4 separate regions of the Homo sapiens genome follow, and regions 2, 3 and 4 are each linked to region 1. Evidence: fine-mapped expression QTL. A gene starts in region 1. Each other region holds a variant in brackets. All regions are shown on one strand. Distances are between the middles of the regions.

Evidence for each region. PIP is the estimated chance that this variant, and not a neighbour inherited with it, causes the effect.
Region 2: its variant is fine-mapped to the expression of CCDC112 in whole blood (INTERVAL, PIP 0.92).
Region 3: its variant is fine-mapped to the expression of CCDC112 in whole blood (INTERVAL, PIP above 0.99). The same link has a PIP of 0.9 or more in skeletal muscle.
Region 4: its variant is fine-mapped to the expression of CCDC112 in whole blood (TOPMed, PIP above 0.99).

Annotation. Positions count from the first base shown.
Region 1 is chr5:115,293,422-115,301,516 of GRCh38, reverse strand. CCDC112 (coiled-coil domain containing 112) reads left to right here and starts at 4,863. Exons shown (of 10, transcript NM_001040440.3): 1 at 4,863-5,090. The coding sequence starts at 4,974. It overlaps LOC105379129 (a long non-coding RNA gene), which reads right to left and starts at 4,589. Exons shown (of 5, transcript XR_948684.3): 1 at 4,169-4,589. RefSeq lists a silencer at 4,765-5,214.
Region 2 is chr5:115,238,557-115,246,665 of GRCh38, reverse strand. PGGT1B (protein geranylgeranyltransferase type I subunit beta) reads left to right here. Exons shown (of 9, transcript NM_005023.4): 3 at 5,060-5,127. Among named protein-coding and RNA genes, the nearest start is that of PGGT1B, 20 kb to the left of the region's middle. The variant G/A (reference allele first, on the strand shown) is at 4,266.
Region 3 is chr5:115,211,230-115,219,338 of GRCh38, reverse strand. PGGT1B (protein geranylgeranyltransferase type I subunit beta) reads left to right here. Exons shown (of 9, transcript NM_005023.4): 8 at 2,366-2,474; 9 at 6,756-8,109. The coding sequence ends at 6,937. Among named protein-coding and RNA genes, the nearest start is that of TRIM36, 45 kb to the right of the region's middle. The variant G/A (reference allele first, on the strand shown) is at 4,877.
Region 4 is chr5:115,257,994-115,266,102 of GRCh38, reverse strand. It overlaps PGGT1B (protein geranylgeranyltransferase type I subunit beta), which reads left to right and starts at 3,226. Exons shown (of 9, transcript NM_005023.4): 1 at 3,226-3,391. The coding sequence starts at 3,252. It also overlaps the pseudogene RPS2P26. RefSeq lists enhancers at 3,108-3,157, 3,188-3,367. The variant G/A (reference allele first, on the strand shown) is at 3,596.

The DNA of each region.
Region 1 (8,095 bases):
AATTGTCCTTAAACTTATGAAAAAGGCTGACCTTCCTCATAATAACATAAAGGCATACAGACATCCCTCAGAAACATTGCAGGAAATATTACACACAAATTTAAGGTTTCCAAGTGCATATAAAAGTTATGTTTACACTATACTGCAGTCTATTAAGTGTGTAATAACATTGCATCTAAAAAAGCAATGTACATACCTTAATTTTAAAATACTTTATTGCTAAAAATGCTAACAATCATCTGAGCCTTCAGTGAATTATAATATTTTTTGCTGATGGTCTTGCCTCTATGTTGATGGTGGCTGCTGAAGACTGGGGAGGCTGTGGCAATTTCGTAAAATAAGACAACGGAAGTTTGCCACCTCAATTGATTCTTCCTTTCACAAAAGATTTCTCTGTAGCATTCTATGCTTTTTGATAGCATTTTACTCATAGTGAAACTTCTTTCAAAATTAAAGATGGAAGAACGGTCAACTGGTGGAGTAGTCAGAATACACAAAACATTTATTAAGTTCGGCATGCCTCATGGTGTCCCAAAACAATTAAAATGGTAACATCAAACATCATTGGTCACAGATCACCATAATAGGAAACAAGTTTGAAATATCGTGAGCATATTTCGAGAAATACCGTCACATTACCAAAATGTGACACATAGACGTAGTGAGCAAATGCTGTTGGAAAAATGGCACCAATAGATTTGCTTGACACAGGATTACCACAAACCGTCAATCTGTAAAAAATGCAGTGCCTGCAAAGCACAATAAAGTGGAGCACAATAAAAACAGGTATGCCCATATTAAACTTACTGAGAGATACGATTTTTCATCTCTTTAGATTTTCAAAAATCCAACAACTTAAATACTAAGATCTCAAGCAATAAAGAAGCAAGCACCCTCACACATTGTTAGTGGCAGTGCAATATGGTACAACTCCTATGGAGAGGAATTTAGCAATATCTAACTAGGTTGCATTTGCATTTAACCTTTGACCTAGCTATTCTACTGAAGATAATCACTTTCCCAAATATGAAATACTTATGAATCATTACTTGCAGCAACAAAAGTTTAGAAATCACCTAAATATCTATTGGCAGATGACTGGCTGAATAAAATAACGGAGGATTATGCATTTAATTTTTAAAATTTAAGAAAATTTCTGTGAACTGACATGAAGCAAGTTCCAGTATATATTGTTAAGCAAAAATTTCAAGGTGCAGTATATATTGTTAAGCAAAAATTTCAAGAGTATAATACATGTGTTATCAGTTGAATTGTGTCCTCGAAAGAGATATGCTGAAGTCCTAATCCCTGGTACCTGTGAATGTGACCTGATTTGGAAATGGGGTCTTTCCAAATGTAATCAAGTTAAAATGGGGTCATACTGCATTAGAATGGGCCCTAAACCAGTGACTGGTATTCTTATAAGAGGAAAGTTTGGACACAGAGACACAGATATGTGTTGTGCAACGATGGAGGTAGAAATTGGAGTAATGCTTCTACAAGCCAAGGAGTCTCAAGATTGCTGGCAATCATCAGAAGCTGGGAGAGGGGCATGGAACAGATTTTCCCATTAAGCCCCCATGAAGAAACCAGACCTGCCCACACCTTGGTTTTGAACTTCTGGCCTACTACACTATGAGAGAATAAATTTCTGTTGTTACAAACTACCCAGTTTATGGCACTTTGTTATGCAGCCCTAGAACACTAATATAATATGCTAGATGTTTTTGTAAGAAAAAAAGAAAAATAAAAATGTATTTGTCTATTTACCTTTTTTTCTTTTGCAAATGAAACATAAAAGAACCAGAAATTAACACAATTATTTACCATAGAGGATTAGTTGAAAGGCCATGGAGAGGATATGTTGGGGAGTAAGCCTTCTTTAAACATACCTTGTCATAGAGTTTTGACTTTATACATGTTATACATAACTTACTTATTTTTTAAAAAAAGTAAATTGAAAGAAAACAAAACAAAAAAGGAAACATTGAAATTGAACACAAATGTAATCAAAAGAACTGAAATATATATCAAATTGATTCCATAGCACATAGAGAAAAGGGTGATTTCAGAAAACTTCTGAACACAGTACTCTAGATATCCAGTGCAGGATATACTCTAAAAACAATAGGAAGTGCAAAATGATCTTAGGCTTCTCTTTATTTTTAGTGGCAGTATTAAAATTGTAAAAGACCACTCAACTCAAATCGTTGGTTGACTTGCTTTTTTTCCGAGGCTGCAAGATAATTCTGGACTAATAATTACAGGAATTCAGACAGTGCTATAGTAACAGGGCTCATTTGGATAAAAGGTAATACAAAAATTAAAGAAGTTTTACCTTCTCAATACACCCAAGTGACTTACTTCCTCCTACTTCACACAGGGGTGGGGAGGTGGGGCCAACCATCTCCTCCCTCCAAATCTTCCAACTACCTTGTGCTGCAACCCATGTATGCAGGACTCTCTGGCCTCCCCATAGTCCCCACCCACTACCTCCCTGTGTCAGAAGAGTCTGTGCGTCTATCAAAGACCAAACCTCCCACTTATGCTCTGGACTCCATCAGCCTTACTTTCAAGAGGGTCTGACTGCCTCTGTCCTGCAGCATCAAACTTCTGTCTCCACTAAATAATTCCCAGCAGCATGAACTCCTTCTACTAGTCCCTACCTTGAAACACAACACAACAACAAAGACCCTCTTTGATCACACATCTTCCCCCAGCTACCACTTCATTTCTCTGATCACCTGCACCATAAAATCGATCAAAATCATAGCGAAAAACAGTTTCTACCTCGTCACCTCCATTATCTCCTCAATGCAGTCAGCCAGGCTTTGGTCTACCTACCCCATAAACCCACGGCCTCCCTGTTGCCAAATGCAACCATCATTTCTTTGTTACCCCTTCACTCAGCCTCTAGGCAGTGAACCACACAGCTGACCATTTTCTCCTCCTCCTCCTTCTTTCTTTTTCTTCTTATTTCTTCTCCTTCTTCTTCTCTTCCTCCTCCTCCTTCTCCTCCTCCTCCTTCTCCTCCTCCTCCTCCTTCTCCTCCTCCTCCTGCTCCTCCTTCTCCTCCTCCTCCTGCTCCTCCTTCTCCTCCTCCTTCTCCCTTCTCCCTTCTCCTTCTTCTCTCTTCTCCTTCTCCTTCTTCTTCTTTGCCTTCTTCTTCTCCTCCATTCTTCTTCCTTCTTCTTCTTCTCCCCTCTTCTTCTTCTCTTTTTTTTTTTTTTTTTTTTTTTTTTTTTTTTTTTTTTTTTTTTTTTGTTGAGACGAAGTCTCACTCTGTCACCAGGCTGGAGTGCAATGACACGATCTTGGCTCACTGCAACCTCCGACTCCCTGGTTCAAGCAATTCTCCTGCCTCAGCCTCCCGAGTAGCTGGGACTACAGACAGGCGCCACCACGCCCAGCTAATTTTTGTATTTTTAGTAGAGATGGGGTTTCACCATGTTGGCCAGGATGGTCTCCATCTCCTGACCTCGTGATCCGCCCACCTCGGCCTCCCAAAGTGCTGGGATTACAGGCGTAAGCCACCACGTCCGGCCTCTTCTGCAAAAACTTCCCTCCACAGACTTCCGGTTTTCCTCCCTTCTCACAGATCTCTCCATATTGGTCCCCTTCTCCTCTTGTCCGTGGTCACCTTCTCGGAGTGGCCTAGGCTTAGTTCTCAGACTTCAATTTATACTCACCCTGGGTGAGCTCATTCAGTCTTATTTCAAATATTTTCTATAGGAAGATCAAATTCGTATCTTTAGCTCTCTCTCTCCTGGGCTCCAGAGGCGTTTATCCCGCTGCCTGTTTAATACCTCTACCAGGATGGTCTCTGGAGTCAGGCTGTCTAGATAGGTATCCTACCCTCTACCTGTGTGGCCATGTGATCCTTAACTTTATCACTGAAATGGAGATGATAATAGTACCTACTTCATGAAGTTATTTGTGAAGATTAAATGCAAAAGTGCATATAAAGCACTTATAACAGCCCTGGCATAAAGGAATTGCTCAATAAATACCTATTTGTTTACTTGTTAAAGGTGAAGGAACCTTACCTATGTGTCTAATTCAACAATGAATTCCCAAGGCCTAGAACAGTGCCTGACATATGCTAGGAGCTCCATATTGACTGACTGAATGAATCGATTTCTATAAAGGGGGAAAAGGTAGTACCTACAGAAATCAGCTCAGTTGCCACAGGTTGTCTTGACTGGAAGCGTCATCTGTGGCTTTTTTCCAACTTCCCAGCACTGTATTTTTGGAATCTGTCTTCTCATTGACCAAGTCCTAGGAATGTAACTGTGGCATTCCTGCCTCTGATATCTGGTTCTGTGGAGCAAGCTGGGTTTTTTTCTTTAAAAATCTAAAATATGATTTATTGTTAGAATCCATTGATAATGTTTTTTCATTTAGACTCAGTCTCAGCAGCGCTAAGTAGAAACCTAGAAAGCGGATGTATATTAGGTAAAAATATGTATATATTGACTATAACACGAATAAAATTTAAGGACGATGTAAGACAATGAATTTTCTTGACAGGTATGGGACTGGGCTGGCACAGTCGGTTAAGTGCCCAAAGGGTATATAAACCCGCGACAGGGCAGAGCGCAGCCCCCGCCCCGCCCCGCCCCGCCCCCACACCCGCCCGCCCCAGAACCCCAGACCCGCCCCTCCCCTGCATCCCGGCTCCGCCCGGCACCTTGCCCCTCCCTCGCCCCGCCCCTCCCCGCCTGAATCCCGGCCCCCGCCTCGCATTTCGGCCCCGCCCTGCACCCCAGTCCCGCCCCTCCCGCACCCCCGCACCCCTGCACCCCCGCATCTCAGCCCCGCCCTGCATCCCGACCCCGCCCTACATCTCGGCCCCGCCCTGCATCCCGGCCAAGCCCGCAGCGCAGGGAGCTGTCTGCAGAGGCCAGGGTGCGCCTGCCACGAATCCCCAGGCACCGGTGGCCGCCGCGGCCCGAGTAGCTCGGCGGGTAAACATGGCCGCACTGACGACGGTTGTGGTAGCGGCTGCGGCCACCGCGGTAGCCGGGGCTGTGGCAGGGGCGGGCGCGGCCACCGGGACCGGCGTGGGAGCGACGCCAGCGCCTCAACAGGTAAATCCGGGAGAACCGAGAGCTGCTCTGGCGGCAGGCGAGGGGCTGCAGGCCCTGGCTGAACAGGTGCCCTCTGCAGCGCCGGCGGGAGGCGCGGCGTTCGCCTCCCCTGCTCGGGGCCTGGCACGCGCTGGGCGTTGCTCTTTGTTGGCTTGTGCGTTTAACAGCTTTTGCAGAGCCGCCTCCATGTGGTTTCGGAGTCGAGGAAGACCTGGGTGGGAACCCGGCTCTGCCGCTTCCTAGCCGCGTGATAAGAACATATGCTGTCGGCGACTCACTTTCTTCTCTAAAAATTGGGAATAGTAACATGCACCTCCCGAGCTTTGGACTAACGTTATGTCTGGGGAGCCCCTGGCACAGTGCTTGATTGGAGGGGGACTCTGTGCTCAGTAATTGGTGGCAGCTCTGTTACTGTACCGGCGCTGGGAACACAAGGAGAAAGACAATATGGGATGGTCGGAGGCAGAGGTGTTTCCAGTGATCGGCTTAGGACCGCTTTCTAGGTGGTGAGGACAAGGTATCTTTGTTCAGATGTTATCAGCTCAGCGAGACTTTCCATGATCTCCCTAAAATGAATCGCCTTACGCGGCACACCCAGTCCCTGTTTCTGGTTTTATTTTTCCCCATAGCACTTAGTACCATATATTATATTACATACTTTATTTCTATTGTTTATGTTTCTCCTCACACCCCTCACCCTCCCTCGCACCCCCATGAGAATGTAAGCTCCATGAGGGCAGAAAGTATTGGAAATTTTATTCTTTATTGTATTCCCAGCACCAAGAACTATGCCTGTTGTGTAGTGCCTGGAACGTAGTATGCACTTACTAAATAATTTGTGGATCAATATAAACCTGAAGGAAGGCTGTCATGAGCTGAGGAGAGGTTCCATCTTTTTCCTCCTTTAAGGAAATACAGTGTCTTTACTCGTAGACCTTCAGGAAATTCCACCTACGGCAAATTTTCTCACACATCCTCTATAATTCTCTTTATTATTCTAACTCTGTCCCAAGTATCTCAGGAAAAAATGTAAAATATATAAATATACATAATACGTAAAGTATTTTTAAGTACTATGCTCAAAAAAATGTGTGACACCATGTTGCTGGCTTTCTCCATCATTTCTCTAAATTCTTGTAGCAATGTTCTGTCTTCTGATCTGCATTTCTTGCGAGTTGCCTAATGTTGTTATTGATGCACACTTTTGTGATGTTTGCCTTCTCAGGGGTTGGATCAGATCACCTGTGGAGCTCTTTCAGATATTTTATCAATCCCCTAGAGGATATCTAGCAATGTTTGGAGACATTTTTGGCTGTCAGAGTGGGGAGCAGGGGGGTGTTGAGGGGCTGCTAGCATCTAATGGATACAGGCCAGAGAACAGCCACCCATAACAAAAATCATCTGGTCCAAAAGTTAGTAGTGCTGAGATTGAGAACCATGGTGTATACTGTCTTACCACTTTAGTAGGGAAAGCAGAGCCTCATTGTTGAGAATCTACCTCAGCATAGTTAGGTAGAATTCTTCACGTGTGTTTGGGCTTTTTTAAAAAAACAAAACAAAACAATGCAGCATTACTGCATGCTATATTGTGATAATGTTTAGGAGTTTACATGTTATCCATTTTTGTACTTCCCCCAGCATACCACACGCACATACCTATACACACAAATTCTACAGCCTAACACCGAACTTGAATATTTGTCATATGATTAAATGAACGAATATTCCTACTGACTTTAACACTGAAACCAACTAGTATTTTCTTGAGAAGAGAGAATTTTCCTGGTGGCAATCTCATGATACTAGAGATGTCTACCAAAATATCTAAAGTTCCTGTCAGCTAGGGCTTCTATAACAAAATGCTACAGACTTGGTGGCTAAAACAACAAAAGTTTATTTTCTCACAGTTCTAGAAGCTAGAAGTTCAAGATCAAGTTGCCCTTAGGGTTGGTTTCTGGTGAGGCCTCTTTTCCTGGCCTGTAGGCAGCCACCTTCTCACTGTGTCCTCACATAGTCTTTTCTCTGTTACAAGAGGAGAGAAAGAGATCTCTGGCATCTCTTCTTATAGGAACACTAGTTCTATCAAATTAGGTCCCCACCTTAATGACCTCATTTAACATAAAGACCCCATCTCCAGATAGAGTTATTTGGGGATCAGGCCTTCTACATAGGAATTTTGAGGGAACACAATTCAGTCCATCACAGTGTCTTTAAATTACTTTGGAGTAAATATCTCTGAAGTTTTAAAACTATTTTATATTGTATTTTATTTTACAATATCCTCAGGGCGTGGAATCTCATAAATTCCTCACTCATTATGAAAAGTTAACACATTTTCCATACTTTTTAATATTTGTATATTATTTGTTCATAACCCCTCTTAGCTATTGCCTTTCAAAACTGAAGACCGCAAATCTCTATCCTCCTCTCCAATGTCATTTCCTTCTTGTTACCATCTGTTCTCTTGATCATTGTAGTTGCTGAATTATGACTTTTTTGAAGTATCTTTAACAGTATCACATTAGTGTGATGCTGGTTTTGTACCAGCATAAGGCTCTGTCTTCTGTTTTGTTTCTAAGGACCTTCCCTCTGATGACCTGAATTTTATGTTCCTTGGCTGCCTGAAATAACCCTTCAATAATAACTATTTTCACCTGTGACTGTGTAATCTTGCATCGTAAAAGGGACTTTGCAGGTGTGATTAAGATAAATTAAATACCTTAATTATCTGAGTGGACCTGGTGTAATCACAAAGGTCCTTATAAGAGAGTCGCAGGAAGATCAGAGTCAGAAGTAGGAGATGTGATGATGGAAGGAAGAGGATGGAGTGATGTGAGGAAGGGGCCATTAGCCAAGGAATTAAGGTGGTTCTAGATGCTGGAAAAAAAGGTAAGGGGGTGGATTCTTCCCTGAAGCTTCCAGAATGAATGTAGCCCTACTAACACCTTTGTTTTAATTAACATTATTTTTAATTGACAAATCTTAATTATATACATTTATGGGGT
Region 2 (8,109 bases), 55 kb after region 1:
TCAAAATAGGCAATTGATTCTGATGGGCAGCCAGACCACACAAAGAATTTTCAGTTTGTTTTGCAACTGTTAAATAGGAACACTAGATGGTGCTGTTTGATAACCTGGAAAGAAATTTATACTGTACCCAGAGTATGCATTCAGCGATAAATTTACAATGAATTGTGTGTGTATACTTTCTTAATTATCATGAAAAGGTATGCTTACTAGAATTCCAAAGGAAAGCACACAAGAGCAGACAAATATTGACAGAAACCGCAAAAGAGTACCTAATAAATATTTTTAAGTGGTGAATTTTTTTTTTTTTTTTGAAATGGAGTATCATTCTGTCACCCAGGATGGAGTGCAGTGGCGCAATCTTGGCTCACTGCAACCTCCACCTCCCGGGTTCAAGCAATTCTTCTGCCTCAGCCTCCCAAGTAGCTGGGACTAAAGGTGTGCTCCACCACACCCGGCTAATTTTAGTACTTTTAGTAGAGATGGGGTAGAATTCTCCATGTTGGTCAGGCTGGTCTCGAACTCCTGACCTCAGGTGATCCACCCACCTCGGCCTCCCAAAGTGCTAGGATGACAGGCTTGAGCCACCGCGCCCGGCCTAAGTGGTGAAAAATTAAGTGGTGAAAATGTTACCTCCTAATGAGCATCATTTTTTAAAACATTAGGATTTAAGTGTGTGACTGATAACTCAATTTAGTAAATGAGTAATTTTCTTGATTTCTTAGTTACTTCATCATAGCTTTTCATAAGAAACAGGAGAATTCTCTTACTGTAGAATAAAGTATAAACTTTAGAATAAACTTCTTTATCCAGTTTCATAGTCCACAGGTGATTAAGAAGAAGGCAAAAAATACTACATTGTCTTTTCCCTATACTGTGACCGTGGTGCTTAAGATCCAAACACTTTTTTCATGACAGTATACAGTCTTTCTGGAAAAAAAAAGAAAAACATTTTTACTTTAAAAAAGCTTTCCTTGATAAATTGCAACAAAAGCTATTCATTTCTTCCTGTTTCACTTTTGATAAAATACAATTAACTGATTTTGAATGGTTACTGTTTATTAAGCCTTGTTTCACTTTGCTAAGTACAATCTAAACATGTCCTTTAACCTTTACAAGAAGCCTGAAGTATATTACTTGCAATATGTTATTGTTACTAGTTCAAAAATGGAAGAAACTGGCTCAGAGAGGTTGTTACTTGCCTATAGAACTCATTGATAGGAAGAATAGGATCCTGAGTTTGATTCCAAGTGTCCATGCCATAATCTCCTAACCTTATATGGTACTTTTAAGTATTGATATTTCTGCTGCTTTTCAGAAAAGTTATTTATTTAATCAGGCTAAAAACAGAAGTGAACAAACAGAAATGTCATTTACTGATTCACCTCTAAGAAGATGAATAAATTCATTTATTTCACTCAGAAGCAGATATTTTATTGAGCCACTACTATATGTCTGCCTCTATGTAAAACACCTGACAGAATTGTTTAAGTTGGTGGGGTACTCAACAAAGGTGTCCAGTTGCAAGTATAAATGCAGAACTGACAGATGGTATCAGAGCTGTCTTCCATCAAAAGTAGAAATGGGATCACATTTTTATGGAGGACTGTTAGCAGATTAGTAACTTGAAAGGATACCCTTTAAAAAAGACAATCCCAAGAACAAAAAGAGAAAAAAAAAGATTTAAAAATGTTTTAATCATATAGGAAAATACGCCTTTTGATACTGCCCCTCATCCAACTAGAGAAGGATTAAAAGAAGTGATGATAAAAGGATAGGCTGGGTGCGGTGGGCTCCTGCCTGTAATCCCAGTACTTTGGGAGGCCAAGACAGGCAGATCACTTGAGGTCAGGAATTCGAGACCAGCCTGGCCAACACGATGAAACCCCGTCTCTACTAAAAATACAAAAATTAGCTGGGCGTGGTAGCTCATGCCTGTAGTCCTAGCTATTTGGGAGGCTGAGGCAGGAGAATTGCTTGTGCCTGCGAGGCAAGGTTGCAGTGAGCCGAGATCATGCCCCTGCAGTCCAGCCTGGGCAACAGAGCAAGACTCTGTCTCAAAAATAAAAAGGATAAATGAATTCATAACTTGGTAAGAGAAAGATAACTTTTTATTTTTTTTTTAAGTATAGCATTATGTACAATTTGGAATATGGGGGGTGTGTTAGGTAGAATCCTTTTTTTTTTTTTTTTTTTTTTTTTGTGAGACAGAGTCTCGCTCTGTTGCCCAGGCTGGAGTGCAGTGGCCCGATCTTAGCTCACTGCAAGCTCCGCCTCCCGGGTTCATGCCATTTTCCTGCCTCAGCCTCCCGAGTAGCTGGGACTACAGGCGCCCGCCACCGCGCCCAGCTAATTTTTTGTATTTTTAGTAGAGACGGGGTTTCACTGTGTTAGCCAGGATGGTCTTGATCTCCTGACCTCGTGATCCGCCCGTCTCGGCCTCCCAAAGTGCTGGGATTACAGGCATGAGCCACCGCGCCCAACCTGTGTTAGGTAGAATTCTAAAGATGTTGCCCCAGGATTTCTGTTCCCTGTTAATTCAGTCAAATACTAATCTGGGTACTGCTGTGAAGGGACTGTGTAGATGGGAGTTAAAGTTATACTAATCAACTGACCTTAAAATGTGGAGCTTATCCATAGGTGACATGTGTACAGGTGGGCTCAGTATAATCACATGAACAGCAGACGAACACAGAAACGTTCGTCATGGAATTGCAGAGAAAGGGAGCAGAAGAGAGAAGAGAAGGTAGAGAGGGTCTAATGGAAAAGATTTGAGTGCCGTTGCCACTCTGAGATATGGGGCCCATATATGAGAAATGGCAAGAGAGGATCTAGGAGCAAAAAGGGATACCTACCAGCAAAGAAATGGAGAACTCAGTCACACAACTGCAAGGAAGTTGATTCTGCCAGCATCCTGAATGAGCTTGGAGGCAGATTGTTCCCCCAAAGCCTCCAAGTAAGGAAGGTAGCCCTGCCTACACCTTAACTTTAGCCTGATGATGCCTGTGTTAGACTTCTGACCTTACAAACAGTAAGGCAGTAGGTGTTTTAAGTTGCCAAGTTTGTGGTAATATGTTATGGCAACAGTGACTAATACAGAGAACAAATTTCAGCCTTATTCATATCATCTCACACCATTCATATTATTTTGTTTATTCCCTTCCAGTCTTTGTTGATATGTGCCATTTGCTTAATTATAAACATAAAAATGCACATTTATTTTTGGATCCTACTTTTTTGCTTAACTTGATCAAATACATTTCTCTGTGTTGCTACATAGTTCTACTGATTATTATTTTTAATAGGAATATAGCGTTTCTTTCAGTACATGAGGCATGATATGCTTAACCTGCTGGACTTTTATGGTGCTTCTAGATTTTCACTATTATTAAACTGCAGTGTGCATTTCTTCTCATACTTGAAATTATTGGAATTGATTCTCAGATATATCATGACTAGGTCAAAAGGTTATGAGTGTTTTTATAACTTCTGTTATATATTGGCAAGTTTTAAGTAGCTTACCAATTTAAAAGTCCTTAGGATAAGAGAACCATAATTTGACTGGGTCAAAAGGATATGAGTGTTTTTATAACTTCTGTTATATATTGGCAAGTTTTAAGTAGCTTACCAATTTAAAAGTCCTTAGGATAAGAGAACCATAATCACTGAAATCATAATCACCATTAGTATCTTTTTTTTTTTTCAAGACAGTTTGACTCTGTCGCCCAGGCTGGAGTGCAGTGGCACGATTTTGGCTCATTGCAACCTCCACCTCCCGGGTTCAAGCAATTCTCTTGCCTCAGCTTCCCCAGTAGCTGGGATTACAGGCAGGTGCCACTACACCCATCTAAGTTTTGTATTATTAGTATAGATGTGGTTTTACCATGTTGACCAGGCTGGTCTGGAACTCCTGACCTCAGGTGATCCGCCCTCCTCTGCCTCCTCCCCAAGTGCTGGGATTATAGGCGTGAGCTACCACACCTGGCTGCTAGTATCTTTTTAAAATACATTTTTCGCCAGTAGGGAGATGATAATTGGTGGAGAGTTTAAATTTAGTGGTTCCTAATTTGTTCAAAGAATTAATGTATAAGCTACTATTTTAAGTTTTTTGGGGGGATAAGAAGCTGAAAAAATATAGTACCTAATGCAGAAGTAGGAGAGTGAAAACAGTTAATAATGAAGTTAGTCATACACTAGTCATAATCTCTTATGAAGGTAGTTCTTCATATCAGAGACTATTTTTAGACCAACTCGATTTTTTTTTATCA[G/A]CGGTGCATTTACAGTCTGCTGATACTGCATTGTTATTTTCTGCATCTATCATACTGATTTTCTAATAGCTATTAAAACCATAATTGTTGTATAGTTGATTGTTCTTTCAAGTTCCCAACTTATATTCCATTGATATCTTGAGAAATGAAAATTTTTAGATAGAAAAAAAGTATGGATAAACATATTTTGATTGAGTAGAGAGAGACTAAGTGCTAACTTACAGTGTTCTACATACTTCAAAGCCAAGTGGATTACTGGACTCAGAACGAAGGTCTAGCTAATGTGGAAATACAAAGTACATATTTTCTCTTCAGCTTTAAACCTTTAGTTTGCTCCCATGTAAAGAAGCAATGAGTTAAAGTAAAAACACACTAAATGAGTTAAAGTAAAAAGACAGTAGACCCTATTGTGTTATTAACCGTTACCTTGAACAATCACTTAACCTCTGGGCTTCTGTTTTCTGTTCTGTAGAAAGGGGGATTGAACATGTTGATCACATAAAAATTGATCTGACAGGAGAAGTATGAAAGGACTGTATAGGCAGTGAGGTGGGCTATTAAAAAAAGGTACATGATAGAAATAATTATGTTTTTTGTGACTCATATGGAAATTAAATGAGGAAATTCCCATAAGCACCTAGAATGGACCTGGCACATGGTAAGCATTCAGCATTAGCCAGTATGAAAATGGAGACTAAAATAGTCTGTTTCTGAAAGATTGTGTAATTAAACTGCTTTAGAATCTGTGCAAAAATAAAGTGTACTTTAAATAAGCACATGCTTTTATTTTCTAGGATCAAATCTAAATCGCTGTGGTTTCCGAGGCTCTTCATACCTGGGTATTCCGTTCAATCCATCAAAGGTTGGTTCTATTTGGTTCAGAAGGAAGTAGAAGGGATGTAGGGATATTTTAATAAAAGAGAAAACTAAGAAGTTACACAGAAAAAAACAGGCTTCCAGATTTCAATGTGGCTAAATGTTGTCTAATAATATATATATATTATAAACTGAAATCCTTTAAAGGAAACCTATACCTACTTTACTTCCTCAAAGAAGTGCACTTTCTTCCGGGAAGAATACATGCAGTACATAAACACACACAAATTTCTATTAATTGTTACAAAAAATTGTCTCAGTATCATACATCTGTGTGTAAAAGTTATTGGTGATTTCCTGAGTAAAGGAAAACAGAGCACTGAAGTGTTTTGATACCTGCTGTGTAAGAAGCCAGTAAACTTTGTTGTGTTTATAGAAAGACTCTACATTTAGCTCACATTTCTTAGGAATAAAAGAAAAAGCCCTTCTAAAGGCAGTGATTGAAGACCTAGGTAGTGATTATTTTAATGACTTTTATTAGAATATGCAGAACTTCTTCATGGTTATATCCAAAGGCCTTGATACCAGCACATGCCAATATAAAAACAGTGAGTCCTAACAGAGGGAGGAGCTTTATTTCTTCTTCAAAGGAGCAGACCCAGAAGAAACTTTGTAGGTGTTCCATATGTACACAAAATACAAGTATTTTTCTACAGTAGAAAGTGGAGAAAAGCATCATTTTTTCTAAAGCGGCCTCACACCATAGAAACTTTTTCCCTGATGGGGCCAGCCTGCTTATGTAATGGTTATAAGCCAGTATCTTGTTGGGCTGAGTATCCACTTGCAAGGTAAGTGGAGAGCTACCAGTTTTTCCGTAATCAGCTTCAAATTTTTGGAATAAATAGCAGTAATGTTGAAGAAGATGACATACTTTGATAGAGGTACTACTTCAGCTTTCTTCCTCTGCCTTAAGCTGTAAACCAGCTTGCCTGTGTCAAGGTCATATGAATTTACCAGCAGGACTCCAATTATGGGTGCCCACTGCATTTAGCAGGGAATGAGAAAACAAAGGATTCAGAAAATTTGTCCCTTTTCATGCCTATCATATTTTCCACCTTAAGCTAATCCAGAATACAGGTAATGTCTTCATTTAGTCATAATGAACAGAATATCGTGCCACTAGTTATGATGACCGTTATATAGTACTATACTATATATAGATGTCTACCTATATTTGTTACAGTGCTTTAATAACATTACTTTTAAAATATGATCCTTCCCCCAACCAACGCCTGCACCAAAACATTTTCAAAATAACAGGAGTAAAATTGAAGAAAAAACCATTATTGCCCTTGGTTCACAGAGTCTCCTGAAACTCCTTTTTGGACCTTCATTCACCTGCACCCTGATATCTTCTGGGCAAGCTAGGTCTCACTTCATGCTGTATTACCTTCATCTGAATTCTGGGTGGTAAAAGGAACTAGATATTCCAAGTGGTATCACATAGAACCGTCACTGAGAGTGGTGACTGAGCGTCTAGGAGACAGATTAGGCCAAGAGAATGTGAGGAGGCACATTAGATTGTCCAGTACAGTATATGAATAAAATATTGTCACTGAGTTTTCTTCTGAAGCCACCAAACTACCTATGGACCATTCACTGACTTACCTGATAAATGCTTGGGACCTTCAATGGCTGTAGAGCACTTTTTGAGAAACACTGATGGATCCTCCCACTATTGTCACAATTTCCTTTCACAAATCCCATGCTCTCTAGCAAATTTTGTGTTGTCCTTAATGTGCACCCCAGAATTATCCTTCTCTAATTTGCGTTTACTTTTTCTTCTACCTGTAATACCTCCTCTTCATCTATACCTGCCCAGGCTCCTCTTCTGCAGAAAAGAATTCCTATTTAAACCCATGTTATTATTATCCCTCCCTTATGACTACTCATTACATTCTATTGTAATTATTTGAGTAGACTTATCTTCTGCTCTTAAGGTTAAGGACCACATTTAATTTATGTTTGGCTTCCATGCAGTTGTTTTAACATAGCAGGTATTTACTTTAAGTATCAAAAAGTTAAATATGCAATAGGAATTCTAAGAAGTCAGTTGTAAATGTGGAATAGGATAGCCAGGAGAACTAGAGCTTGAGTTCTAAGGAGGAACTTAGAATGAAAGACATAAAGATGGAAATTTGCTTGGTACATTTGTGAGACCATATAAAGAACTGCATATCTGGCCAGGCACAGTGGCTCACACCTGCAATCCCAGCACTTTGGGAGGATGAGGAGGATGGATCACTTGATCTCAGGAGTTTGAGACCAGCCTGGGCAACATGGGAAAAACCTGTTCTGTACATAAAATACAAAAATTAGCTGGATGTGGTGGCAGGTGCCTGTAGTCTCGGCTACCTGGGAGGCTGAGGCAGGGCAGGAGGATTGCTTGAGCCTTGGAGGCGGAGGTTGCAGTGAGCGAGATTGTGCCACTGCACTCCAGCCTGGGTGACGGAGCAAAGCCTATCTCAAAAAAAAAAATGTGTATCTAAAGGTGGGTAGGTGGGGTGGGTTCAGATTATTATAAAAAGGGTAGTGAACACCATTCAAATTCATTCTGTGAGGAACCATAGAAGGTAAGTATGCAAGAAAATCTTACGATTCATGGGTGGTTTCAAGACCCTTGGATCTTGACTCCAAAGAACTAGTGGTCCGTCTGATATTTGCCTTGCACTTAGTCACCATTAAGATAAGTAACAGCTTTTTAGACAGTAACTTACTTAATCGTCACAATAACCTTGTGATGTACTAATATCTTCATTTTCTAGGATTAGGAACATTAAGCAAGCCAGTGAGAAATAGAACCAGGATTTTATGCATTTCAATGATTGTAAAAGTTTACATTTATTATAGAAGGCAGAAGAGTTTATTTTAATTGTATCGTTTTTTAGTTTCTTATATGGTGATCACTACTGTGGTATTTCATTTAGATTTGTGCTATATAAAATAAGTTTTGTTTTAGAAATCTTTT
Region 3 (8,109 bases), 82 kb after region 1:
TGGTTTTGGCACCCTTGTCAAAAGTCAGTTGACTATATATATGTGAGGTTTGTTTCTGGACGTCTTATTTTATTCTGTTGTTTTATATGGCTGCCCTTGTGCCAGTACTATACTGTTTTAATTACTGTAGCTTTGTAGTAAGTTTCAAAGTCAAGAAGTTTGAGACTTCCAACTTTTCTTTTTCAAGATTGTTTTGGCTATTTGGAGCCCCTTGCAATTTGATATGAATCTGGTAATTGACTTTCCCATTTCTGCAAAAAAGTCTTTTGAAATTTTGATGGGAATTGCATTGAATCTGTAGATCCCTTTGGGTAGTAGTGATATCTTGACACTGTTGAGTGTTCCTATCCATGAGCACAGGATGCTTTTCCATTTATATAGGTGGTCTTCAATTTCTTTCAGCAATGTTTTGTAGTTTTCAACATACAAATCTTTCACCTTTTTGTTAAGATTAAATTCTCAGTATTTAATCATTTCAGATGCTCTTGTAAATGAAATTGCTTTCTTAATTTCCTTTTGGATTGTTCATTGCTAGTCTATAGTAACTACCAACTTTTTATGGAATAGTTTTAACAGGCATTAAGGATCATTGCTTAAATCAATTATGGCATTAAGAGGTTACAAAACAGTGGTATTCTTTCATTCCTTCTCAATTTATTAACTAGCATTGTTTTTTAAAGAAGAATTTTACCTTACCCTGAGATATACTTTGTACAGAGAAGGACAGATAAATACTGAATTCTTTCCCTTAATAGTGTTCAACAAAATGAGTTGGTTCCCTACCATCCCCTCAGCCTTTCCAATAAAATATTAGATTTTAGAGTTTGGGTTTTTTTTTTTTTTTTTTGAGAATCATTGTGAACACATAGATTTTAACATTTTTTAGTCATATATTATATATAATATATATTAGTTATATATGACATATATATATATATATACACACACACATATAATGCTTAAATTGTCCTATCTTTAGTCTATAAGAACCCTTTCAAGTTGTCCCAAGTCTTTTTTATTTGACGTCAGTAGTCTTTGACAGCTTTCTGAAGGCAACCACTTTTAAACTTTTTAAAAATGTTTTAATTCTTGTGGACATTACCATAACTTTAAATCACAGACTGACTTCTTATCACCTTTAGACATTATTGATGATTCCCAACTATGAGAAATTAAGATTTAGCCTCTCACTTTTCCAACAAATTGTTACCCGTTATAGTTAGTTCTGAATATTTTCCTCATCTTCTACCTTCCAATGCTATATAAGGTTACCTTTATTTTTATAATGTTAAGTTAGGACACATTCATATATTTGTTCAATATTAATAATCACATCTTTCAGCCTTTGCCTATAGGTTGATTCTAAAATTTAAAAACCAGTAATCAACACTTATTATGGGATAGTGAAAATATTGTTTATTGCTAAGCCAAGTGCAGTGTTACTATTATAATTTTTTCATTTTTATGTAATGACCAGTGTGCCACTGATGGAAAATATTCCTAACATCAAGATTCAAAAAAGTCTTTTTCCTTATATTTTATTAATTAAATCAATGTAAATGAATAAATTTGTTTCCTGTTTGTACCATAACTTTCTTATGAGTTTAGCTTTTCTTTTTGAGAAATAATGCTTCTTCATTAGTCACTAAAAGCTGTGGCTCTCTCTGGTTCATTAACATATATTAAATTGCTTTGTATCATCAGAAATGTCTTGAACCCTCTTACCTACTGTGCACCTCATCTTGAACTTCACAGTATTATTTATTTATTTGTATTTTACTTTTATGGGGTCTTGAGAGAAAAGCCAAGTACATGTCCTAAATCATTAAAAACTATATAGTTTTTTATGTTGCAATCATTTTTGTCTTACCTTTTTCTTTCCTAATTAAAGAGCTATACTTTTTTACTATTTTCAAAACTGTCTGTAGCATCTGGTTAGTAATTTTTGTTTGCTCTTTTTTTAAAAAATATTTTTAATTCCAGTTACTACTAGTTTATAACTAATAGCTCAAGAGCTTATCATAAGAGTTAAAATATGGGTAGATAAAATTGTACTTTTTAAAATGACTGATTATGTTGAGTGGATTCGAGTTGTCTTTTGAATTTAGCTTAATGTGATTTAAAGGGTTCAGTTGGCCTGGTTCAGAAGAAGGAAATAGAGAGTCGAGAAAAGGAGAGTAGATTTGATAAGAAAATTAAAAAGTTAATGTGATTTACTCATTTCAAAAGTGCTCAAGGCCCCAGAGACTTGGTCTGAGCACCTTAGCTAAAGAAAAGCATATCTAAATGACACGTATCTGAAATTTGAGCCAAAGGTTGATATGAGTTTTATGTCAGTAAATTTTTATTTGTCATGTCATTTCAGCTTCTAAAAATTTTCCAATACACTAACTTTGAGAAAAATAGAAATTACATCTTATCAACTCAAGATCGCCTTGTAGGGGGATTTGCCAAGTGGCCAGACAGTCATCCAGGTAATTATTTTCTTTGTGAATCAGAACAACCTTTATTTCCTGAATAGATCTTCAAGCATCTTTATCAGAAAAGGCATATGATAGAAAATATATCCAGTTGCAAAGTTACATTAAATAATATTTTTTAAAAGGTATATTGTGTAAGCTTAGGATAAATTTAGGGTATTAGAGAGTATAAATGAAAGAGTTTATTATCAAGATGCATGGGAATAGTGTGCATTTTTTCCCAAATATTTTACTTAGTAATGTTTTATTTCATTTGCAGCAATAATGTAGATGGTCTGAATGGGTCCTTTCCAAAGAAGAGAATTATTTAGGCCATCCAAAGCCGTTAGGATTATTAGTCATGACTTGAACTAAGTATAATAAATTACTCCCAATCCTGAAGGGAATCAGTTCTTACTCTTTTCAGAAGTCATTAAATAGGCCGGGCACAGTGGCTCATGCCTGTAACCCCAACACTTTGGGAGGTCAAGGCAGGTGGATCACTTGAGGTCAGGAGTTCAAGACCAGCCTGGCCAACGTGTTGAAACCCCGACTCTACTAAAAATACAAAAATCAGCCAGGTGTGGTGATGCGTGCCTGTAGTCCCAGCTATGCGGGAGTCTGAGGCAGGAGAGTCACTTAAACCCAGGAAGCAGAGGTTCCAGTGAGCCGAGATTGCACCACTGCCCTCCAGCCTGTGTGACAGAGCGAGACTCTTTGTCTCAAAAAAAAAAGTCATTAAATAAAATATTTCAAATCCTGAATATATGTGTTTCTCACTTCCCATACTCTTGTTCTCCAAATTTCAACAGATTCAGACAATATAAATGGCATGGCACTCAAGGCCCTTCCAAAATTTGGCTCCTCTCCCACCTCTAGCATCATTCTGCAGCCTACACCTCACCCGACATATGTTTTCACCTCCAGCAAAATGAGTCTATATACAGCTTCCCTATAAAAATCCATTTAAGTGTGTTTTGAAATAATTTCAAACACTGACACTTTTGATAAGCAAGTAGTTAAAGAATTAGTTACAAATATGAAACTAGACACAAGGAATGATTGTTTTTGCCAGTATTGCAATAGAGTCGTGGTTTTTATTATCAGCCTGGAAAGTGCCTCATCAACTCATCTTCCATCACAGAACTGCTGTGGTTGGAATGTGTGATTGAATCAGAATATAAATAAGGAGCTCATGAAATCAATTTTTGTATTTGAAATGAGCAGGAATATTTCCTTACACCCCTACTTGCCTATATTTTCATATAAAACATGCTTCCTAGGCCAGGAGTTTTGGCTCACGCCTGTAATCCCAACAGTTTGGGAGGCTGAGGTGGGCGGATCACTTGAGGCAAGGAGTTTGAGACTAGCCTGGCCACATGGTGAAACATTGCCTCTACTAAAAATACAATAATTAGCCAGGCGTGGTGGTGGGTGCCTGTAATCCCAACTACTTGGGAGGCTGGGGCAGAAGAATTGCCTGAACCTGGGAGGCAGAGGTTGCAGTGAGCCAAGGTCACACCACTGCACTCCAGCCTGGGCAACAGAGCAAGAGTACATCTCAAAAAATAAAATAAAATAAATGGCCGGGTGCAGTGGCTCACGCCTGTAATCCCAGCTTTGGGAGGCTGATGCTGGTGAATCACTTGAAGTCAGGAGTTGAAGACCAGCCTGGTCAATATGGCGAGACCCCGTCTCTACCAAAAATACAAAAATAGCCAGGCATGGTGGTGCACACCTGTAGTCCCAGCTACTCAGGAGGCTGAGGCAGGAGAATTGCTTGAACCCAGGAGGTGGAGGTTGCAGTGAGCCAAGATCTCACCATTGCACTCCAGCCTGGGCGACAGAGCGAGACTCTGTCTCAATCAATCAATCAGTAGTAAAACATGTCTTCTTAGAGAAAGTGTACATTGCTTTCAAAGTCGTAAGCCAAAGTGTGTCTTCAGAAGTTAATTTCTCAAGCAAAATAATATCTTGAAATTTTTGATATCTCTAGTGCCTCAAAACTGAGAATTATTTTGGTCTTCATTCCATTTTTTAAACCAGTGCAGGGTACTGTTTTAACAAATAATGGGAGTAGGGAAATGACAGTCTCTTAGGAAACATTTCTTGTATAAACATACTTGAAATACATTCAGTGTTTCCAATAGCTTTTTTAAAAGAAAGTTCTTGAGGCTTTTTCCGGAGAGTTCAGTTGCTAACTTTAACATTTGTGTAAATATTTGGATGTACTACTTACTTTTTACAGATACATTACAATGTTTTCAGAGTATGCAATAGAAAGCATAGAAGGGCTTTGCTAAATTGAATTTATGTGTAAAGATCTGGTCCCAGAATCTTTAATCATTTTAACAAGATTCTTTAAAATTAAGCTTATTCTTCATTCTAGTGAATTTAGTGGCAAATTTGATACAAAG[G/A]GATTTTATATACATTTATGAAAGAAACTTCAAAAGAATAACCTTTTATTGTGGAGTAAATATATATTTCAACATCTAAAGTGCTTTATTATGGAGTAAACATATAGTTCCACATCTAAAGTGCTTGTACGTTGCCACTTACAGATAAGGAGTTTTTTTAAAAACACAATTTGAGGCTTCAAACAATTGAGTTCTGATCTCATTGGCTGTTACAAAAATCTTTTTGAGAAACAAATAAGTTTTATTTGTTACTTTACCCAGAGAGATTTTAGTTTTACACAGTTCTATTTTATGTTATTATAGATATATATTTTCTGTTGTACTTTTTCCTAGAAAAGTTTCCTAGTTTCTAGAAAACAAAGCTTAATGTTGCTTTGTACCCTTTGTAGTTTTAGAATAACTATATGGATGTAATATGACAGGTGAAATCAAGTTTATTTTTTATAGTCTGAAAGTCAAAGGAAAGTGAGCCAGAAGAAACCTAAGTATTTTCTGAAAAGGCCTAAAAGGTGATCAACATGGGCCTCCATTAGTTAAATAACATTTTCACAATGGCATTGAGTAAGCACAGCTATTTGTCATTTCTGTTTTGAAAAATAAGTGATACTGTTGTAAGTAAAGCTTTTTCTTTAACTCTTTTGACAAAGTTTGATGTGGTAAGATGTGTTGAACTTTTTGTTGTTGTTGTTTTGAGACAGGGTTTCATTATTTTGCCCAGGCTAGAGTGCAGTGATATAATCATGCCTCACTGCAGCCTCAACCTCCCTAGGCTCAGGTGAGCCTCCCACCTCAGCCTCCCGAGTAGCCGGAACTACAGGCGCACGCCACCATACCTGGTAATTTTTGTATTTTTTGTAGAGATGGAGCTTCACCGTATTGCCCAGGCTGGTATCGAACTCCTGTGGCTCAAGGAATATGCCCTTCTCGGCCTCCCAAAGTGCTGGGATTACAGGTGTGAGCCACCACACCCAGCCTGTTTTGAACTTTAATAGCTCTTAAGGCCATAAATGTCGGCCAATTCAAAAATAGAAAAAAATTTTGACTGGTACAAAACTGTCTTTTTAATGTTCCTATAACTGCAAAGCTCTGAGCTCTTCAGAAGTCTACATAAGACTCCTAGGCAGGAATGGCCATGTGATTTCATTGGCCACTTTAATAGAAGAGGATCGCTGCCCCCTGAAAGATGGGAAACTAGTGAGCCAGTGCAGAATTGTCATGGTATGAGCACTCATATTATTTCAACCAAATAGAATGTGAGTTTGTTTTTATTGTCAGATCAGATATTTTTACAATGACTGACATTACCCTAAATAGGAGGATTAAATATGGCACAGCATTCCAGAATGGATTATTTTTGCATAAGCTCCTTTTATTTAACACAATGTTAGGATAGTACTGCATATGGTTTAGGAACTTTCAGAGGTAAAACGTGGAGCGAGGGATATTGCAACTTAGATTCAGAGTTTTGTTTTCGTTTTAAAGAAAAAAAAACTTAATGATATAGCATTGAAGCTACTCGTTTTCATGTTCTCTAGTAAGCAAGAGGGGAAACTCCCCAAAGTGAGAAGTCTTACATATGACTGCTGCTACTCCTGTCTTTTAATCACAGAGGTTATGGACAGTATCAGCTCTTCAGCTGGAAACTGTTTTCCTTTGTTAATGATATTTTCATGAATAAAATATTTTATTTTGATCATCTGAGTTTTTTTTTTAATTGGTGTTTGAGGCTTTGAGAAAGCAAATATTTTTAAAACTATATTAGCATTTCTCTAAACTTACTTTTAATGGAGTGATGGGCTGGTAAATATGTGGCTAAAATATTCTGTAGAATGTACAAGTAAGAATGCCTATTATGATGTTTTAAATGCCTTCTTTTCAGATGCTTTGCATGCATACTTTGGGATCTGTGGCCTGTCACTAATGGAGGAAAGTGGAATTTGTAAAGTTCATCCTGCTCTGAATGTAAGCACACGGACTTCTGAACGCCTTCTAGATCTCCATCAAAGCTGGAAAACCAAGGACTCTAAACAATGCTCAGAGAATGTACATATCTCCACATGACTGATTTTAGATTGGGAGGGTGGGGGGATTTGTAGCATAACTGTAGCTCAAGTTTAAAAGCCATGTATAACCAAGTGTGCTCTTTTTTTAAAAGGTAGAGTCTTACAATCAAATCTCCTGCTGATTTCACTTTGGGATATGGTCTTGAGCCAGTAATCTTTATACTGGGTTTCAAGAAAATCTTTGTTGAAGTTTGAACCACAACTTTGTCGTGGTTCTTAAATGTTTATACTGTATTTCTAAGAAGTTGTTTGAGGCAAATTAACTGTATGTGTGTAGGTTATCTTTTTAAAAACTCTTCAGTGCAAATTGTATCTTATTATAAAATGGACACAAATTTTCAAGTTTACACTTCATATAGCATTGATAATCTTCAGGTGAACACTTAGTGATCATTTAAAAAGCTCACTGCTGATCGTAGAAAATTTGCTTTAATTAATTAAGTATCTGGGATTATTCTTTGAAAACAGATGACCATAATTTTTTTTAAAGAAGAGTGACTTATTTTGTCTTATTCTTAAGTAAAGTGTGCCAATTAAACCTGTGTGGCCTATATAAATGAAGTTAATAACTTCATAGTAAGAATAAATAGGTTTAACTAATGTGATAGTTTTCTAAAAGGAGATTGTTTGAAGACAACTATTATGTAACTGAGGGAAAAGCAACTTAACTGTATGTGATTGTGAATGAGAAAGTTTTGTGCTATGTGGGTCATTTATCTAGACATTGCTGTGGTGAATACCAGTTATGTTTGATTTTATTCTCAAATCATTAGTTGCCTTTTTTTTTTTTTTTTTTTTTTTGCTTTCTAGGAAGAAAACAATCTTTTTTATCTAGAAGGAAAGATACTTTGTGTTTTCATTTTTAGCCATTTGAAGTTTTTAATTTATTGCCCCCAGTGTGTTAGCTGCTCTAATTTCAAACTAATACTTTTCTAATTTTTTTCAAATTAAATAAGTAAAAAATACAAAAACAGAACCATTCAAACAGATTCAGTGGTGTAACTCAATACATGGTCATTTTTATTCTCATATTTTCAGGTAAGTGAAAGGGAAATGCGACCATTTAGAGGGTAAGAAATAGGGTTTTGTTTTTGTTCATTGTTTTGTTTTAAGTCTATGAACTAGCTAATTATAAAGGAGGTAGTATAAAAACTCTTCATTAGTAATTAA
Region 4 (8,109 bases), 35 kb after region 1:
CCTGGTGTGGTAGTTCACGCCTGTACTCCCAGCTACTTGGGAGGCTGAGGCAGGAGAATCGCTTGAACCCGGGAGGCGGAGGTTGCAGTGAGCTGAGATTGTGCCACTGTACTCCAGCCTGGGCAACAGAGTGAGACTCCATCTCAAAAAATAAATACATAAATAAAACACAGAGCAAGATGAGGAAATTAAAAGCAGAACTGAGAAGCTACAAGATACAGAAAATGTTTCTTACATATTGCTTTTTTACGTGTTGCTTTTTGTTGCACCGAAATGCAGCTTTCAAATTCCTGTATCCAAGGTAAGCATTCTGGATGATGTGATTCTTATGGCTTTGTTTTTTTATTTTTTTTTTAAATAAAGAAAAGTATGGAAGTTCCTCTGAAGAAATCAGTTTTTCTAGCTGAATCTGAAATAAATGATGAATTTATTATATAGATCCTTTATATAAAAGATGTAAGATAAACAAATATCTTCAGTTACAGACTTCATAGAAGTTACAGGTTCATAAACAAGATGTCAAATAAATATTTCTTATACTGGTTTAAAAAGTACATTAGCTTTTTCTCTGAGAAAACACCAAATCGCGGATGATGCCGGTGCAGCGGGGGACCTGGGAGGCCCGGAGGCCCGGGGGGCTCTGGGATGGGGAACTGGGGTCTCAGCCGGCCCTGGGATGGGGAACTCGTGTCGCGGCCATGGACGGGGCCGGGGCCAGCTGCAGAGCTCGTGGAGGCAAGACCAAGGACAAGGAGTAGATGGTTGTCACCAAGCTGGGCTGCCTGGTCAAGGACATGAAGATTAAGTCCCTGGAGTAGATCTATCTCTTCTCTCTGCCCATCAAGGAGTCTGTGATCATTGACTTTTTCCTGGGGCCTCTCTCAAGAAGGAGGTTTTGAAGACGTGCCAGTGCAGAAGCAGACCTGCACCGGCCAGAACACCAGGTTCAAGGCGTTTGTTGCCATCAGGGACAGTGGCCACACTGATCTGGGTGTTAAGTGCTCCAAGGAGGTGGCCACTGCCATCTGCGGGGCCATCATCCTGGCCAAGCTCTCCGTTGTGCCCATGCGCAGAGGCTACTGGGGGAACAAGATCGGCAAGCCCCACACCATCCCTTGCAAGGTGACAGGCTGCCACGGCTCTGTGCTGGCGCGGGTCATCCCTGCGCCCAGGAGCACTGGCATCGTCTCGGCCCCCATGGCCAAGAAGCTGCTGCTGATGGCAGCTATCAATGACTGCTACACCTCAGCCAGGGGCTGCACTGCCATCCTGGGCAACTTCGTCATGGTCATTTTTTATGCCATCTCTAAGGTCTACAGCAGGCTGAACCCTGACCTCTGGAAGGAGACTGTATTCACCAAGTCTCCCTATCAGGAATTCACTGACCACCTCCTCAAGACCCACACCAGAGTCTCCGTGCAGAGGACCCAGGCTCCAGCGGTGGCTACAACATCGGGTTGTACAAGAAAAATAAAATGAAGTAAGCCTGGAAACAAAAAAACTACATTAATAAGAAACATAGAAAAAACACTAAAGAAGAAATGTTATAAAGTACCCATAATTCCAGGGTAACTTTTTCAAAAAACATACCTACATATTTTTAAATTGTTACAGTCATACAGTACATATTAATTACTATGCTATAATTGCATTACACATTTTCGTACATTTCTACCTAATTCAAACATTATCATGTAATGGCTAAATAACACTCAATTATATAGATGTTCTATCATTCCCATTCTGTTATGCACATGCCAAAAATCTTGTAGGGATAAAATCACTCATGGAAAGCCTTTTACCGACCTAGGAGGCATTCTGTATTATCTCTGAATGAGTCCCACATTGCAAATTTTTCCTCTAGATTTGGATCAGATTGCTAGTCCTTGAGCTGAGAATCAGATGAAACATTTGGCTTCCCTAACTTAAGGGCCATGTTTATTAGAATTAATTTTCTGAGAATGTATAGAGTGTCCATAGCTGATTCCAGTAAGTTAAATGTGTATAAGACTCCACTTTAAAAATCTTCAGGCATTTGGGGGTATGTGTGCTAAGTGAGAGATCTTAATTTTAATAACAGTGGAAACTCCAGACTGGGCACACCTGAAGGGCAAGGACTGTGAGCTCCGTATTTGTAGGGAAGTACCGAGGACAGCCTAGAATCCGTCTGTGGCTGTTAAATGCGGCATTTTGTAAAGACATGCAGGAATACCTGTGAATAAGTAGTTAATAGTACCAAAAATTATTCAGAGCACTTTGGATTGTTGAATAAGTGTAAGATTACCCCAGCCCATAGAGTATAAGAATTACATTTTCTAAGAAAGCTAACAAAATTAAACCCAAAATTTTATTAGCTAAGTTGATCACAGGGAACCTAGTTTAGTTATATTATTGGGTGGATCCCCCCACCCGCTACTCAGGAATGCCTCATGAAAGTTTAAAGGGCATAGTATACCGGCTAAACAACTTAAATCCCTATTTTTGGAAAAAAGAACTAGAAGCATGTTTAAATTTTTTAGAATGCAGGTAATTGGAGAAGATATTGAGCTTATTTTGCTGTTGCAGATTGATGCACCATTGATTCTTGATAACACGTCGACTCAAGCAAAGTAAAATCTGTAAGATTTGTAAAAGAATGACGCAAGCAGTCATATATAGGTATGAATATGCATGTTGTATATGTTTGGGGGCATTATACACAGATTTTTAAGTGATTCCTGGTATCCAGAAAGGATTAAGATTAGGAAAGTCTCTGAGCTTTTGTAGTGTCAATAAACATTTATCTCCACTGGTTTGTTTTTCTGTTTCCCTAACCGTTCGGCTTAAAACTGGCCCTCCAAAAATGAATCTGTTAGCAAGTTTATACTGATCCATCCTCGTTTTCAGATATACCATCCTCAGGTTCTACAGAGCCAGAATTGTCTCAAAGCGTACTTGATGCTTTTGACCTTGCGCTTCCCAAGATAAAAATTCTGACGGAGGGATTTGTGGACTTGATTTTCACAAGGCCTGCGAGGTGTTTACAAGCCTCGAGGGCTTTGAGTAGAAAAGGTAGGGTCATGCGCTAGCTAGGGAGATATCGGAGAGAGGAAGTGCTGCACAGGACCCAGATGATAGCGGTTTCAAATACTGGCTTAGTCTGCGGCGGGCGCAGGTCCCCTCACCCGGCACCCTGTGGTTCAGCACAGGAGGGTTCTTTCTCTCCGCGGGCACTGATTCCGGGTCGCGGCGGACGTCGCTTCCGGAGCAGCATGGCGGCCACTGAGGATGAGAGGCTAGCAGGGAGCGGTGAGGGAGAGCGGCTGGATTTCTTACGGGATCGGCACGTGCGATTTTTCCAGCGCTGCCTCCAGGTTTTGCCGGAGCGCTATTCTTCACTCGAGACAAGCAGGTAACTCGTGGCACAGTCAGCCAGGCTGGCACAAGGCCCGGGCTCCAGCGGAAAGGCGCGGCGGAGTCGGACCGCAAACTGGGCGCCGGAAGGGGGCTGCGCGGCCGCCCAGTTGGCACTGACTGGTTTCAAGTGGGCTTGAGGTTACCCCCACTCTCCCGCCGTACGGTGGGAAGGTCTGGAAGGCTGTAGGTCGAGGGCTGT[G/A]GCATCTCCAGTTTCCGGCTTTTTCACTTCCCTTTTCTTCTGGCAACTCTGAGCTGCTTTTTTACCCGCTCCCATAGCCTGTCACTTTGCCTCATTACTTCCGAGTGTAAAAGGAAAAGGACAAAGTTTGTCGTCGTATTTTTAGATGAATACTTCTGTGCATCCTTGTCCTCTCTAAAGTCATTAACTCTTAATAGAGTGTCTGTATGGTGTTTTATGTGTAGGAGCGGCAGAGAACCTCTAAGGTCTTAGAAACTTTGTGGGAACTATAAATCTAATGGTAGGCGAAAGAGGTGTGGTGTTGCGTGAAGCAGCCTGTTAAAAGTATCGCAATAGCTGAAGAGTGTGGTGCGGCAGAGACTAAGCGACTTCATTTACAGTAAAAGCTGGGGATGAGAAGAAAGAAAGGAGAAGGCAATCTTTGCTCCGCATTGCTGTGTTTTGAAGTGAAGCTCAAAAGCTGCTTGAGACTGGATGGGAGGAAAGAGCGGCTTGTTTTTGCTGTGTTCTTTCCCCACGTTTTCCAAATTCTGAGTTGCTGGTGTATTTTGAACACTGCATGACCGGATCAGTTTGGGGAGCTTTGCAGATTACTTCTGCACACTTGGTCAAGAACCACATTATGGTAGGTGCCAGAGTACAGCTGAACAAGACAAGCATTTGTATAGAGTTCTGTGCTATATGTTAGTGTAGTGTTCATAGGAGTATATAGACAGGCATGTACATAATCCAGATATCTTTAGAGAGGCCTTCCTTAAACACCCTTCCTAAAGGGACCACTTCCAATGACCACCTCACATTACGTATGTATTGGTTTATTTGTTTAATGTCTTTCTATTACACTGGATTATAAACTTCACAAAGGTAACATTTTCGTCTATCTTGTTTACCTCTATACTTAGGACTGGGCTGCCCTGTCCAATCTGGTAGCCACTAGCCACATTTGGCTATTTTGATTTGAATTAATTAAATCAAATTAAAAATTAAGTGATTCTTTTGGTAGTAGCCACCACATTTCAAGTACCCAGTTGCCATATTGGCCAGTGGCAATTGTTTCTATTTCAACATTTGCAACAGCTTAGTCCTTTTGGTCAACATTGCACTAGGACCTTAAATAGTACCTGGTATCTGAGAAGCACTAAGAAATATTTGTTGAATAATGTGAGCTGAGCCCTGAAGGATGAACAGATTCTCACAAAAGAAAGAGTGAAACGTTTATATTCCTTCCTCCTCTCATAGGTGTTGATCGATTAGCAGAGCCTATACCTTCACTGAAAGATTCAGATTTCCAAACCGAAAGGTTATGATTGTAGTGATATGAGATGTTTTAAAATGTTGATAAATTGTTTATATCTTAATAGGGATTAATTTTATGTGAATTCAAAGCTTTTAGATAAAAAGTCTTCCATCCTGTTTTTGTTATTGATACATAATGTGCATATTTATCGTATACATACACTGCTTAGATAGATGCAGTGTATAAGTCCTGTGAGCTGATTAAATTGTGATTGTTAAACAGTTGAACTTTGCTTGCAGCTATCACTATAAGTCTGTGATTTAATTTTCAAAATGCCAATGTGTTTGGCCTGTTTTATAAAATTCCAGCTTGGACAAATCCATATAGAATAATGCACATTGGCATTAAACTGTGTAATTCTGTTCACAGCATAAGTAAAACAGCACAAATTTTCTGACTTATTTAACTTTAGTATGAGCATAGGATCGACACCAGGTGTTATATAACACCTTGGTGCATTGGTTAAGCAATATTGTATCCTTTTTTGTCTAATGTTTGTCATATGAATAGAATTTTTACATCATTTTGGTTTTCTTATAGCCTAGTTAACCGCATTTAAGATAACTGCATATGTCAGTTTCTGTAGTGATTTTAAGTTTTTCTCTTTCCTAACTCACAGACTTTATTTTCTTTAGCACTAAGTTCTTTTGTGGTGCATGTGATTCATAACTGACTTTAAAATGCTTGTGAAGAAACTCCAACCTTTTCAGCAAAGGTGACCGGTCACAAAGTTTCTGCTGATCTTTAAGACAAAACAGTACATTGGGCAAGCCACAACTCTTACCTGGTATTGCAGTTAAATTCCACAGTCATTCATAGAGTGCCTCCCCATGTGTCTAGGTACAGGTATACAGTGTTAAACTAATGATTCAGGTGTTCCTCTGTTCGTTTCTTTTTACCAATAGGTATGAAAAAGCTTTGAGAAGGCTAATATTAGACTGGATATTTAGACACTTATTTTCAGATTCACCATTTTGGCAAAATTACTCTTATTTTCTTGTTTCTTTTAGCCTGACCAATAGGAATAATTTTTACTTTTCTAGTGACAATGACTTTATGAAAATAAAGAGTGTATTGTCTGCGGTTTCATCAGAGATTTTTCTTTTATATTGACTTCTTAAAATGATAGTTACTAGTTTATAATCCAAGTGAATATTAAATCTTGGGTTGGGAGCTTTATCAATTACCAGGTTTCTTTTATAAGTAGTTTAGGGAGTTTAGTGTGGTTATGAGTTATTCTTGCCATTTGTATTTGGGTAATAGGAATTAGAGTAGTCCTTTTTATTAAGGAACAAAGTAGTGACAATTTTCTGTTATTTTTACAGTCACCTCTTCTAGAAGAAGGGTTTAGGCAGTTAGCTTTTATTTCACAAAGCATTTACAATCTAGCTAGTCTTTGTATTCTCATGTCCCTCTATTTTCCCCTGTGTATCCTGTGTTGTAACCTCTCTCCTGCCTCCCATTCTGCAACTACTTTGTTCTTTCGTTTCCTCCCTTATCTTTTTTTTTTTTTTTTTTTTTTTTTGAGACAGTCTCACTCTGTCACCAGGCTGGAGTGCGGTGGCACCATCTCTCCTCACTGCAGCCTCCGCCTCCTGGGTTCAAGCGATTCTCCTGCCTCAGCCTCTCAAGTAGCTGGGACTACAGGTGTGTGCCACCACGCTCAGCTAATTTTTTGTATTTTTAGTAGAGATGCGGTTTCACCATGTTGGCCAGGATGGTCTTGGTCTCTTGGCCTTGTGATCCGCCCGCCTCGGCCTCCCAAAGTGCTGGGATTACAGGCGTGAGCCACCGTGCCCGGCCCCCTTATCTTAAATATATCACAGTCTAGCAGTACATCTTTCAAAGTGTAGTGGTGGGAGACTCTAAGTAATGGCTTGTATGTGCTTTCAAAAATGCACATACCTGGGCCCCTTCCCAGACCTTCATTGGATTCTGTGTGGGCCTTGGGAGTCTGCATTATAACACGCATCTCAGGTGGTTCTAAAGCAGGCTAAAGTTAGAGACTGTTTGCCTTATAGGAGAAACAAATATGCAGTTATTACAGCAGTGATTCCCAACTCTAATGTGTATGTGAATCACTTGGGGATCTTGTTAAAATGCAGATTCTGATTGCATAAGCCTGGGTCATTGTATTTTTAGATGAATACTCCTGTGCATCCCAGTCCTCTGTAAAGTTATTAACTCTTAATAGAGTGTCTGTATGGTGTTTTACGTGTAGGAGCAGCAGAGAACGTCTAAGGTCTTAGAAATTTACTTTATGGGAACTGTAAATCTAATGGTAGGCGAAAGAGCTGCGGTGTTGCATGAAGCAGCCTGTTAAAGTATATTGCAATAGCTGAGGAGTGTGATGCTGAGTGTGAGCCGGAGATGCTGCATTTCTGACAAGTGCCCAGATGATTTTGTTATGGCTAATCCCCTGACTAGACAAAATGATTGTGATATTCTGAGGGCATTCTGGAAGTACCTAAGTAGCTCAGCCTGAAGAGAGACAGGGACTAGAGAAGGCTTCTTGGAAGAAGTAATCCCAAAGCTAAATCTTAAAGAATGTGTTCCAGTGTTTTGTTGTTGTTGTTGTTGCAAATGGACAATAAGAAGAATAAAGCTGGAGAAGTGAGTGTTGAGCAGAAAACTTCAATTAGTTCTCTAGTAGTGGTTCAAAATGTAAAGGGATATGGTAGGAATGTAATCTGAAGAGGTAGGCATGCATCAGATCATGGAAAGCTTTGTGTGCTTGTCTAGAAACATGAGTTGGATATCATGTAAGTGACAGGAATAGTCATATATATAGTCATATATCACATGGTACAGGACCAGAACCAGGGAGACCAATGAGGACACTCATGTGGTAGTCCAGGAGAGAGATGCTGAGGCAGTGAAGTAGGGCTAGAAAAGAGGGGATGAAGAAAAAGAAGGAGTCCCAGGATTCTTGAATTGGAACTGCTATCTGGTCTGGATAATAAAAGGCAAAAGGAGCCAGTTGAGAAAGGAAGAAGATGATTCATGTAATAGCACTTAACATGTAACCTCCTTAAGGTTAGGAAGCTTTATTCATTTTTGTGGTGACATCTAGTCTGTAGTAGGTGTTCAGTAGATGTTTCTTATTGAAAAAGTATGATAGTAGAAAAACTATTTTACAAGTTAAATAATTCCACAGATATGTGACTGTACTTAAAAGTATTTACCAGTTGAATCAGCCATTGAAAAATAATTATAA